3 linked regions of the Homo sapiens genome follow. The protein of the gene in region 1 interacts with the protein of each later gene in a pairwise test. Each region holds a gene or a part of one and is shown in the gene's direction. Other genes may lie near its edges. The genes, in order: ABCB5, CCND2 and PSMB9.

Region 1 (4,392 bases):
GTCATTTGTGACAACGTGGATGGAACTGGAAGACATTATGTTGTGTGAAATAAGCCAGAGATATGTGTGAAATCCAAAAAAAGTCAAACTCCTAGAAGCAGACAGTAGCATGGTGGTTACCAGAGACTAGGAGGTGGAGGAAATGGGGAGATGTTGGTCAAAGGGTACAAACTTCCAGTTATAAGATGGGTACAGGATGGTGACTACAGTTAATAATTCTGTATTGTATATTTGAAATTTGCTAAGAGAGTAGATCTTAAGCGTTCTCACCAGACACGCACACACACAAACACGTAAATATGTGAAGTGATGGATGTGCTCATTGCAGTAATCATTTCACAATGTATATGTATATCACATCATCATGTTGTAAACCTTAAATATAGACAATAGTATTTGTCAATTATACATATTAAAGCTGAATAAATAAAATAAATTAATTAAAATTATATAAAACTCAAAATTCAGCTCCCTCACTAGGCACATTAAAAGCGCTCAATAGCCACATATGTGTAGCGGCTAGGATATTGGATGTGTGGAGAATATCTCAATTATTGCAGAAAGTTCTGTTGGATGGCTCTGCTCTAGAAGTAACACTTTTAGCTACATTACACCACTTCTGTGCATTTAGATGACATCATGAGATTTTTAAAGCAAAATTAATTATTCCTTCTGTGCATATGACAATTGCAAGTTTATCTCTAGGTTGGCAATTTTCCTAATTATTAGTGCCACATTTACATCTGTTTGCCAGATATTTTCACTTGGACACCAATATCAACCCAAATTTGCATATTTAAACTGAATGTTACCATTTCCCCAAAACCAATTCTGTCTCATAACTTCTCTATTACCATCTTTACTACTCTTTTGTTACAACTTTTAAAAGTTTGATCGCTGAACTTATATTTTTTTTATTTCTTCTTCCTTGTCCTCTTTACCTACCTACCGCCTTAAAAATACCTCTCAAATAGTCTTACTTACTGCTATCAAACTAGATTTTAATGAGTCTACTTAAATCTTGTGTTTCCCCAAGTCCTTCCAGTATATCCATGGCTGTAATGTCAAATAATCAGGTTAATTGTACCAAATACCAATGGCTTTGTCTCTTTCATTCCAGAAAATTATAAAAGTTGTCCTAAAAATTGGTTCAGTGCCTTTTACAATCGTATGTACCTTATCTCTCTCTCCATTTCTGCATGAACAGTCCATCCTATCCAAACCGTTCTCATTTCTCTACCATGAGATAATTCACCTTGCATTCCTAAAACTATGCCCTTGTTCCTCCTCCACATTTTTCTACTTACTGAAACCTTAGCCTTCCTCCAGAAACTAACCTCAGGGCCATCCTCATCTGTGGGCGAAACCATTTTAGATCACAATGTTCTTCCTCAGTCTTCTTAGATACTAGAATAGTCACTCTTTGTACTATTCATCACATAACGTCTGTCTTGCCAGGTATATTAGGTTCCCCTAGAGAAATAGAATCAATAGGCCGTGTGTGTGTGTGTGTGTGTGTGTGTGTGTGTGTGTGTATGTAGAGAGAGAAAGAGAAAACACGCTCATGTAATTGTGGTGACTGGCACTTCCAAAATCCACAAGCCAGACTAGAAGGCTGGAAATTCTGGCAAAAAATTGATACCTTGTATCTGAAAGCTTTATCCTATCCTCTTCAGAAGACTTCAGTCTTTTCTCTTAAGGACTTCAACTGACTGGATGGGGCCCACTCAAAACAGCATCTAAGGAATTAAAGTAAGTCAAAGCAAAAGTATTAGAGATTATGAAAACAATTGAAGCTTGTGAAGAATATAAAACACTTCTCCATCTTAGAAAGAATAGTTTGTGGTAAAGATGGAAACAAAAATGTGTGTGTATGAAACTTTTTCATAGTCAGAAATGATCATCCTACTATTATTTTGGTCATTTTAAAGCATCCATACAATTCATATCTTCTTTCTTTCTTTCCCTGTGACAGGGTCTCACTCTGTCACCCAGGCTGGAGTGCAGTGGCACGATGTTGGCTCACTGCAACCTCCGCCTCCAGGGTTCAAGAGATTTTCCTGGCTCAGCCTTCTGAGTAGCTGGGATTGCAGGTGCCCAGCACCATGCCCAGCTAATTTTTTTATTTTTAGTAGAGATGGGGTTTCACCTTGTTGGACAGGCTGGTCTCGAACTCCTGACCTCAGATGATCCAGCCGCCTTGGCCTCCCAAAGTGCTGGGATTACAGGCATGAGCCACTGCGCCCAGCCATATCTTCTTTCATCTAACCAAAGATCCCATGTTTTCCATCCAACCAGTATATCTTAGCTATTTGTCAGATTATTCTTACCAAGGATGCTTGAACGTTAAGTGCATCTCATGATTTCTTCTCACATGGGTATTTTGTCCTATGATTTCCATCTTGGTACATGAACCTAGAAATATTTTTTAAGGCAAAAGTCCTTATAAATAAAATATTCTGTCTATTTTTACATTTTCTTGTATGTTCCATAGTACTTGCCATGATAGCATCCACACAGCTGTCAATAAGTAAGAATTGGCTGACTGATAGATTTTGTGTAGAGCAATTAAGATGTTCAGAGTTCTTCTCTCATGTTATCTACTTAGTGCTGGATATTACTACCTGATTATCTCACAAATATCTCAAACTTGACAAGTTTCAAGTTAAATTTATCTTCCTTTTGAAACATTGGGTAACAGAGAGGAACATGGGGGCAGCCATCATAGTCAACCTGTAGCTTTCCATACAGTGAGGACCTGCCAACTGGCTCACAAATTGCTTTGACCTTGTGTCGCTTTGTCTCAGTGCACTTTTCTCTACTATCTAAATAGTATTCCTTCTGCCTGGGATAGTCTTTTTGATCTTTATATAGCAACCTCCTTTTATAATTCAGATTGCAGCTTAAACATTATCTTCTACAAGGGGCTTTCTCTGACCAGATGTATATAAATACCACATTACTCTTCATAAAATTACCCTGTTTTAATTATATACCAAAAACTGACCACTCTCTAATTTTCCTTATTTATGTATGCCTTTTTTTAAAATTGTGACTCTCCCTGTAATGGAGTCTAAGCTCTATGACAGCAAAGATGTCTAGGCTGTTCAGTGCTTAAAACAGTACCTGGCACAGTATATATCTATAGAATGAGTAAATTTTTTTAAAAAATCATCTAATGAGCTTGTTTAAAATGTAGATTTTTTTCCAGTGCATTTCTTTAGATTATCATTCAGTACATGTGGGGCAAGGCCTAGGTAGGTGTCTGATATCTTTAACATGCACTCCAGGTGATTCTGATGCCAGAGGTCCTTTGACAATACTTTAAAACTGTGCTATTAACAGCAGATAAAAACAATATGTTGTCAGCACTAAGGTGTATTTTAAACTTTATTTTTATAATCTTGGATTTAGGAAGATAAAATTTCCTCTAGATAAGTAGTGCCTTCTGTTTCTCAAGGCTTTGTGCTAGATACTATATAGTCATGTTTCTCAAAATTTGATATGCATTACAAACCACTTCGACAATCTTGTTAAAATGCAGATTCTATTCAGAAGTTTTAGAGTGAGACCCAAAAATCGCATTTTTATAATGGATTAAAAATATATAATCTAACTGTATGCTGTCAATAAGAGAATCATTTTAGATCTAAAGGCAAATAGGTTAAAATCAAAAGGATAAAAAGAGATAATCCTGCAAATATTAACCAAAAGAGAGCTGGAATGGTTATAGTAATATCCAGACAAGTTACACCTCAAGTCAAAACCTTTTATAAGAGACAACAAAGAACATTAGATAGTGATAAAACAGTCAAATCACCAAGAAGATATAACAACTATAAGCACACAGCCACAAAATATCACAGCTCCTAAATAAACACTGACAGAAGCAGAGAGAAATAAAAACTTCTGTAATAATGGTTAGAAACTTTAAGATTACCCTTTTTTGCTAACAGCTTTATTGAGATATAATTCACATATCATAGAATGTACCCATTTAAGATGTACAATTCAAAAGTTTTTGTATATTCATAGAGTTGAGCAGCCATCACCACATTCAATTTATAGTGGTTTTATCATCTTGAAAAGAAACCCTGTATCCCTCTCATTAGCTGTCATCTCTATTTCTCCTCCACCCAGCAACTACTAACTTACTTTTTTCTCTATGGATTTGCCTGCTCTAGGCACTTCATATTAATGGAATTATATAGTATGTTGTCTTTCGTGATTGGGTTATTGTACTTACCATAATACTTTCAAGGTTTATTTATGTAGCATGTATCAGTATTTCATTTATATGGCTATCTTCACCTTTTATATAATTTCAACTTTTATTTTAGATTTAGAGCTTACCTGTGCAGGCAGGTTTGTTACATGAGTTCATTGTGTGAC
Region 2 (3,652 bases), on another chromosome or scaffold:
ACCATTTTGCCAGGAGGGAGGCGGGAATGTCGGGTGTTCCTGGTTATCTGGGCATCGTTCCTTGGCTCGGGTGAACTGCATCTCAATGAATTGTGGAATGTGCTGGGTTAGAGTTGCCAACTTCTCTCTTCCATTCGCTGAGTGTTCATGGGGTTCTTTTCATTCCCCTGTGGGGCTGCACTTTCTCCCAGTTCTGCAAAGCAGCAGGAGGCTTTGGGGACTCGATGATGTCATTTCTGGGACACATACACAACTGGATAGTGACAGATTCTCCAGGAAGCACAGAGCCCTCATTCTTCCTGGCCTGCTTGGCCTGCTCCCTGCATCTGCCTGCAATCCAGGGATGCTGGGCGCCTTTCTCCTCATCCCTCCAGACGCTGGAGAGCATCTCCAGTCGGAACTCCCCACCACAGTCCTGCAGGAAGTACTAGGAGTGAGAGCAGAGGAGGGGCAGGTTGGGGAGGATGCTGGCTGACATTCATTGCTTACCTTGAACCAGGCACTGTGCTTTTACAAGGATTATTTTAAGTGAATCCTCAGAACAGCACTACAACGTGGGTATTGCTGTTGTCATTATTTGCAGATCAGAAAATGAAAACTCAGAGAGGTCAGGTAACTTGCTCATCTTCACACACTTGGTAGGTGGTGGGATGGAGATTCCACCTCCTTCTGATTCCAGAGCTAATACTCTGAACCAGTGAGCTGTGTTCTCCAGAGGTCTGCTTTGGTTGGAGGGGAGCTGGAGCCCTAGGCCCTGGGACGGCCTCTGTTGCCCATGGCAAGGCGTGTGGCTGCTCCTGCTCTCTTCAGATCTCCAGATGCAGCAACCTGGAGAAAGGCCCTCCTGGGTCTGGTGGGGACTGGGGCAGGAGTGGAGGCTGCCCAAGCTCCGTGCACTCCACGTTCCAGCTTGGAGCTTTTTGAGTCTACTCTCCAAATCCTTCCCATCTCCCTGAAGAGTCTTCTGAGAAGTGTCTCAAATGCTCCTCTTCACTCAAGAGCCTCCTTTCTTTTTTTTTTTCTTTTCTTTTTCTTTTTTTTTTTTGAGACAGTCTTGCTCTGTCACCCAGGCTGGAGTGCATGGCACAATCTCTGCTCACTGCAACCTCCAACTCCCGGGTTCAAGTGATTCTCTTGCCCAAGCCTCCAGAATAGCTGGGATTACAGGCGCGTGCCACCATGCCTGGCTAATTTTTGTATTTTTAGTACAGACAGGGTTTCACCGTGTTGGCCAGACTGGTCTCGAACTTCGGACCTCAGGTCATCTGCCCACCTCGGCCTCCCAAAGTGCTAGGATTACACTGTGAGCCACTGCGCCCAGCCTTCAAGAGCCCCCTTTCTTTGAGAAGTTTCTTCAGAAGTTATCCATATAGTAGTACAGACCTAGCCATTATAGCACACCATCCTCTACTATCTAATGCATTGATGCCCAGCCTTAAGAAGTCTGAATATTGTACGTTTTGGGGGGAGTCCTCCATGCTGCCTGGAACAGGGAGGAGCACATTGTCATGAGTCGATCAGAATGGATCGCTGATCGGTTCATTGCCTCTCTCTCTGCTGCAGGAGGAAGGATCTCAGGAAGTCACCAGCATCTCACCTCTCCAGGTGGGCAATTAACGATGGCGAGGGCACACCCTCACCCCTGAGCGTGCCTTCTGCACCAGCATATTGCTTGTTGGCATTTTTGATCAAGAGACTTAACAGACTGCTGAGAAATTTGTACCTGGTTTTTATTTGTTAAAATAATATTACGTACAAATTTTACAAACTCATCTGTGTTTCTCCCACCTAACAGAACAGCTTTTATTTTCCGTGCATCCTTCCAGTTCATCCATAGGCATATATGTATGTATTTACCCATGGTTGTAATCTTCATCGTCGCATGCATGCATGCAATTTGGTTTTCCGCTTCCTTCTTCTGAGTGGATATTGTGACCATTTCTCCATCCTGTCATAGCGACAAAGCTGATGGTTTCCAGGAATGGCTGCATTGGGTAGGTGGAGCTTTCCACAGTTGAGGGTGGGGGTTGGCTAATTACAGCTAGGAAGCTAGTGCACAGATGAAATGATGTTTGATTTTTTTGTTTTTCTCTCTGTTCAGTATCCCCTACCAGTAGAGAGGGGGATGTCCTTGAGAGTGGTCCTGGGGCAGCCCTGGTGCCACGGGGAAGTAGCGCCGCTCTGTGGAGAGGGCTGCTTTGTGAATTTGCCGGCTGGTAGACACCGTGATCCATTCTATTGTCTCCTCATTGTTCTTCTCCTTGGGAGTCATTCCCATTCCAGATCCTCAAGTAAGAGCAAAGTAGACCTGTAAGGCACCTGGGAGGTTATCCTGCTTACTATCTTTAAACTCTTGACCTAAGCCATGTAGGAAGAAACACATTTTATAACACAACTCAGGATACTTGTACAAGTATATCAAACTGATACAAAAGTTTCTCCGAACAATATTTACTCTTAACGACATACGGTGAGCCTGATACTTTCTATCCTACTCTATTTGGTTAAAGGAGAACAACAACAGAAAGTGCTGGTCACGACCCACAAATGCATTTCATGACCCATTAATGAGTTGCAGCTAGAAGTTAGAAAAACACTTATCTCACCCAACCCGTTATTAGACAAATGGGAAACCAAGCCCTTGGAAAGAGGAAGTGACTTGCCCACAGTCCCACGTCTGGACCTAGCTGGAGGGCTGATGTTGCCTCAGTATTTGACTAACCTGGAGGAGAGGTGGGGCATGCTCAGGGATCCCGAGGAAGATGCTCGTCTTCTGTGTAGCGGGCAACAGAGGGCAGCACGGCCGCCGTCCTCGTCTCCAGCGGCGTCTCTCCTCTGGCTGTGGGAACACACTGCTCCTTTGGTGCCACTCTGAGCTGCTGAGAGGCAGTCAAGTTCATGCACATAGTGCTCCCCAATTCTGTGGGATTGGACAGTGTCCCCAAGAGGACTCCCCTGAAAATCTTCTTAGTAAAACAAAAAGGGAGGTAGAGTCTCCCTGTGCAACCGGTGCACCTGTTCCCCCTATGCCTGCTGGCTTCCAGAAGTTCATTCGTATGCCAATAATAAGAGTTGGTTTTGCTAGCAGTGGGACAGCAGAGATGGGCATGTGTGAGGTGTGCTTCCCGGTCTGAGGCCTATGGCAGAGGGAAGGGAGGGCCGGGGATACTTGCCTGCCTCTTCCCTGGCAGATGCTCCCACCCGGGCCTTTGTGGGCCCAGGGCCATGGGCCGGCTGCCCCGCTTGTGTTATGAATGTCACAGGGGGGAGCTAACGAGGTTATTGGGCAGAGAAACACTCTCCTGTGACCCATGTGGAAGAGACCTACAGCAGAGCAAGAGGCAGGGAGGCTGGCTTTGTCACACTGTTCATGGCGACAGAGAAGGCGTAGGAGGGGCGGGTGGACAGCAGGCGTGGGCGCAGCACCATTATATACGTCCCTCAAGAGGTGGAGATGGTGAGAGGGCAATGGAGAAAAAGCCAAGGAGACAGGCAGATGGCCAGGTTTGCTCTGCGTTCATGATGGGAGGGGAGGGCTGTGCTTGGCTCAGGGATCCACGGTGTCTAACAATGCTGCTAACTTGATGCTGGGGCAATGGGCTGACCATTAAAAGAGCTGCTGTAGAAAGTGTGTTTGTAATAGAGTGTGTAC
Region 3 (3,312 bases), on another chromosome or scaffold:
AAATACAAACATTAGCTGGGCTTGGTGGTGGGTGCCTGTAATCCCAGCTATTCGGGAGGCTGAGGCAGGAGAATCACTTGAACCAGGGAGGCGAAGTTTGCAGTGAGCCCAAGATTGATCCACTGCACTCCAGCCTGGGTGACAGAGTGAGACTGTCTCAAAAAAAAAAAAAAAAAAAAAAACCTGAGTTTTAACTTGGTGACTGTTGACTCCCTCCTGACAGCGAGGCGGTGGTGAACCGAGTGTTTGACAAGCTGTCCCCGCTGCACGAGCGCATCTACTGTGCACTCTCTGGTTCAGCTGCTGATGCCCAAGCCGTGGCCGACATGGCCGCCTACCAGCTGGAGCTCCATGGGTATGAAGCTCTGGAGTTCTGACTCCCCACCCACTAGAGCTCCCCCAACCTGCATGAATCCCTGTACAGTGTGCTGTTCCAGGAGCTGGACACTGGGAAATGGAAAAGTCTTGTTTCGGCTCTTGCTGGCACTTGAATCTGTCAGTTTCTGCATCTGTAAAGTGGAGATAATATAGTACCTCATGAGACGGTTATTTTGAGAACCACATTCTATATGTGAACACAGTTTAAAAGCTGTAAATCACTATCCTGATATAAATAATCAGGAAGAAGGTGATATTGTGACCCACCATAATATCAGGCAGTTACCATACGAGAAATCAAGGTCGTTGGGACGGAAGTAACCTTATCTGCTTTTCCCCATAAGAGCAGGGTCCTTGCAGCCAAAAGAAAGTTATGTGGGTGGGGCTGAGCAAAAGAGTGAGCAATTGAAAGCTTCTTACCAGTTGGTGGTGTGGGACTCTGGTTCCCCTGTACATGTGGGAGGGAGGCTGCAGTTTGAGCTATTGCAGTTACAGTTTTCAGGGGTCGTTTAGCAGGGATGATGGTAACAGTATAGGAGAATGAGACTTAAAATTCTATCAACCTTTATTCCTAATATTTCCCTCAGGATAGAACTGGAGGAACCTCCACTTGTTTTGGCTGCTGCAAATGTGGTGAGAAATATCAGCTATAAATATCGAGAGGACTTGTCTGCACATCTCATGGTAGCTGGCTGGGACCAACGTGAAGGAGGTCAGGTGAGTTTCTCCCAAAGCACTCTCTCCTCTGGGCTTCCCCACTCTCCTGCAGAGGAAGATGGAAGTCCTATGTCATTCTAGCAATGAGTTCCAAGGACACTACCTCTGAAAGCATAGTACTTTGGGGATATGAGATACCAGGGCTTCATTGCAGGGTGCAGAGACCACTTAATGTCTCAGTGGGAAGGAAGGGCTTGATGATTCTTTAACCTGAGGATCCCTTTCCCAGGTATATGGAACCCTGGGAGGAATGCTGACTCGACAGCCTTTTGCCATTGGTGGCTCCGGCAGCACCTTTATCTATGGTTATGTGGATGCAGCATATAAGCCAGGCATGTCTCCCGAGGAGTGCAGGCGCTTCACCACAGACGGTAACCAGCCAAGTGGAAGGGTACCTGGGGAGGGCTTTGAAACATGGGAAGGAAGTAGATTATGAGGAACAGGAAGAGAAATACAGGGGTGGCCATTTAAGTTAATGCCGGGCCTGGTACACTTTTAAGAGTGAAAAGGGGCAGGACAAATGCAAAGCTCAATGGGGTTCTTGGGCAATACGGATAAACCAGGGCTGTTCTGAGTAAATCAAATGAGGATACACAGTCACTGTGAGAACCAGTGGTGTGCTAAGCACAGTGGCTCACACCTGTAATGCCAACAATTTGGGAGGCTGAGGCAGGAGGATTACTTGAGCCCAGGAGTTTGAGGCCAGCCTAGGCAAGATGGTGAAACCCTGTCTCCACAAAAAACAATAAAAAAAAGTAAAAAAAAAAATGAACTGGGCATAGTGGTGCACACCTGTAGTCCCAGCTACTCAGGAGGCTGAGGTGGAAAGATCATCTGAGCCGGGGAGATCAAGGCTGTAGTGAGCGGTGATTGCACCACTGCGCTGCAGCCTAGGTGACAGAGAGAGACCCTGTCTGGAGAAAAAAAAAAAAAAAAAGAACCAGTGGTGTGCTGAGGTGTGCTGAGGCTGGCTTGGGACCACTCATGAGAGCGGACTGTTAAATAGTCAAGGATTTGTGAACTGCTTAGCTATTTGTAACTTGCAATTCATCATAGCGGGAGCATTTACACCACGGACATCAGCAGATGCCACATATGGAAGCCTTTTTGTAAAAAAACTGATTTACCAGCACACCACTAAATATGCCTTCCTGGAAGATGAGTTTTGAGGTGAAAGTGGTAGTAGGCATATGGATGGAGGGGGAGTAAAAAGATTTTTGAAGCTAAGCCATCCTCTCTCTCCCTCTCTCCAACTTGAAACCCTCTGCAGCTATTGCTCTGGCCATGAGCCGGGATGGCTCAAGCGGGGGTGTCATCTACCTGGTCACTATTACAGCTGCCGGTGTGGACCATCGAGTCATCTTGGGCAATGAACTGCCAAAATTCTATGATGAGTGAACCTTCCCCAGACTTCTCTTTCTTATTTTGTAATAAACTCTCTAGGGCCAAAACCTGGTATGGTCATTGGGAAATGAGTGCTCAGGGAGATGGAGCTTAGGGGAGGTGGGTGCTTCCCTCCTAGATGTCAGCATACACTCTTTCTTCTTTTGTCCCAGGTCTAAAACATCTTTCCTAGAGAAAACAAAAGGGACTAAACTAGAAATATAAAGAGCCCTATACATGACAGGTGATCACGTACTGAATGATTTTGAAGTAGTACAAACAATAAAAATTCTCATTCCGCATCATCATGCGGTCCATGATGATGAGGCCGCAAGTGAGGTGATGGGACTCTTTCCTTTAAGGCTAAGACTGACAGATAGGCAAGACACCTACACACATGAGAATTAGCTAAGACTATCAGCAAACTCGCATGTAAAAGAATTCCTTTCATAATGCATTCATTCATATTAAAGGGCAATACATGAAAAATGCTTAAATATTTTGGGGCACTTGTGAATTTCAAAGAATAATGACAATAACCAAAAGAAGCTACATTTGTGGCATTGGCTAAATGTTTTATAAATTTTATCTCTTAAAATTCAAACCAAAAAACCCCCTGTATTCACACCTGTAATCCCAGCACTTTGGGAGGTCAAGGCGGGAGGATTGCTTGAGCCCAGGAGTTAGTGACCAGCCTGGGCAACATAGTGAGAACCCCATCTCTACAAAAAAATTTAAAAATTAGTCGGGTGCGGTGGTGCATGCCTGTAGTCCCAGCTGCCTGGGAGGCTGAGTGGGAGGATCGCTTAGGCCTGGGAGTTTGAGGCTACAGTG

Evidence for each region.
Region 2: the proteins of ABCB5 (region 1) and CCND2 come close enough for resonance energy transfer, tested with the Homo sapiens proteins (one large-scale study listed by BioGRID).
Region 3: the proteins of ABCB5 (region 1) and PSMB9 interact in a two-hybrid assay, tested with the Homo sapiens proteins (one study listed by IntAct).

What each region holds. Positions count from the first base shown.
Region 1 is NC_000007.14:20,614,086-20,618,477, forward strand, and holds the start of ABCB5 (ATP-binding cassette sub-family B member 5), read left to right. Parts: upstream 1-1,581; 5' UTR 1,582-1,752; intron 1,753-4,392. UniProt on the Homo sapiens protein: Energy-dependent efflux transporter responsible for decreased drug accumulation in multidrug-resistant cells. Specifically present in limbal stem cells, where it plays a key role in corneal development and repair.
Region 2 is NC_000012.12:4,283,712-4,287,363, forward strand, and holds part of CCND2 (G1/S-specific cyclin-D2), read left to right. Parts: intron 1-3,652. UniProt on the Homo sapiens protein: Regulatory component of the cyclin D2-CDK4 (DC) complex that phosphorylates and inhibits members of the retinoblastoma (RB) protein family including RB1 and regulates the cell-cycle during G(1)/S transition.
Region 3 is NC_000006.12:32,857,040-32,860,351, forward strand, and holds the end of PSMB9 (proteasome subunit beta type-9 precursor), read left to right. Parts: intron 1-223; coding exon 224-355; intron 356-965; coding exon 966-1,095; intron 1,096-1,324; coding exon 1,325-1,466; intron 1,467-2,365; coding exon 2,366-2,493; 3' UTR 2,494-2,812; downstream 2,813-3,312. UniProt on the Homo sapiens protein: The proteasome is a multicatalytic proteinase complex which is characterized by its ability to cleave peptides with Arg, Phe, Tyr, Leu, and Glu adjacent to the leaving group at neutral or slightly basic pH.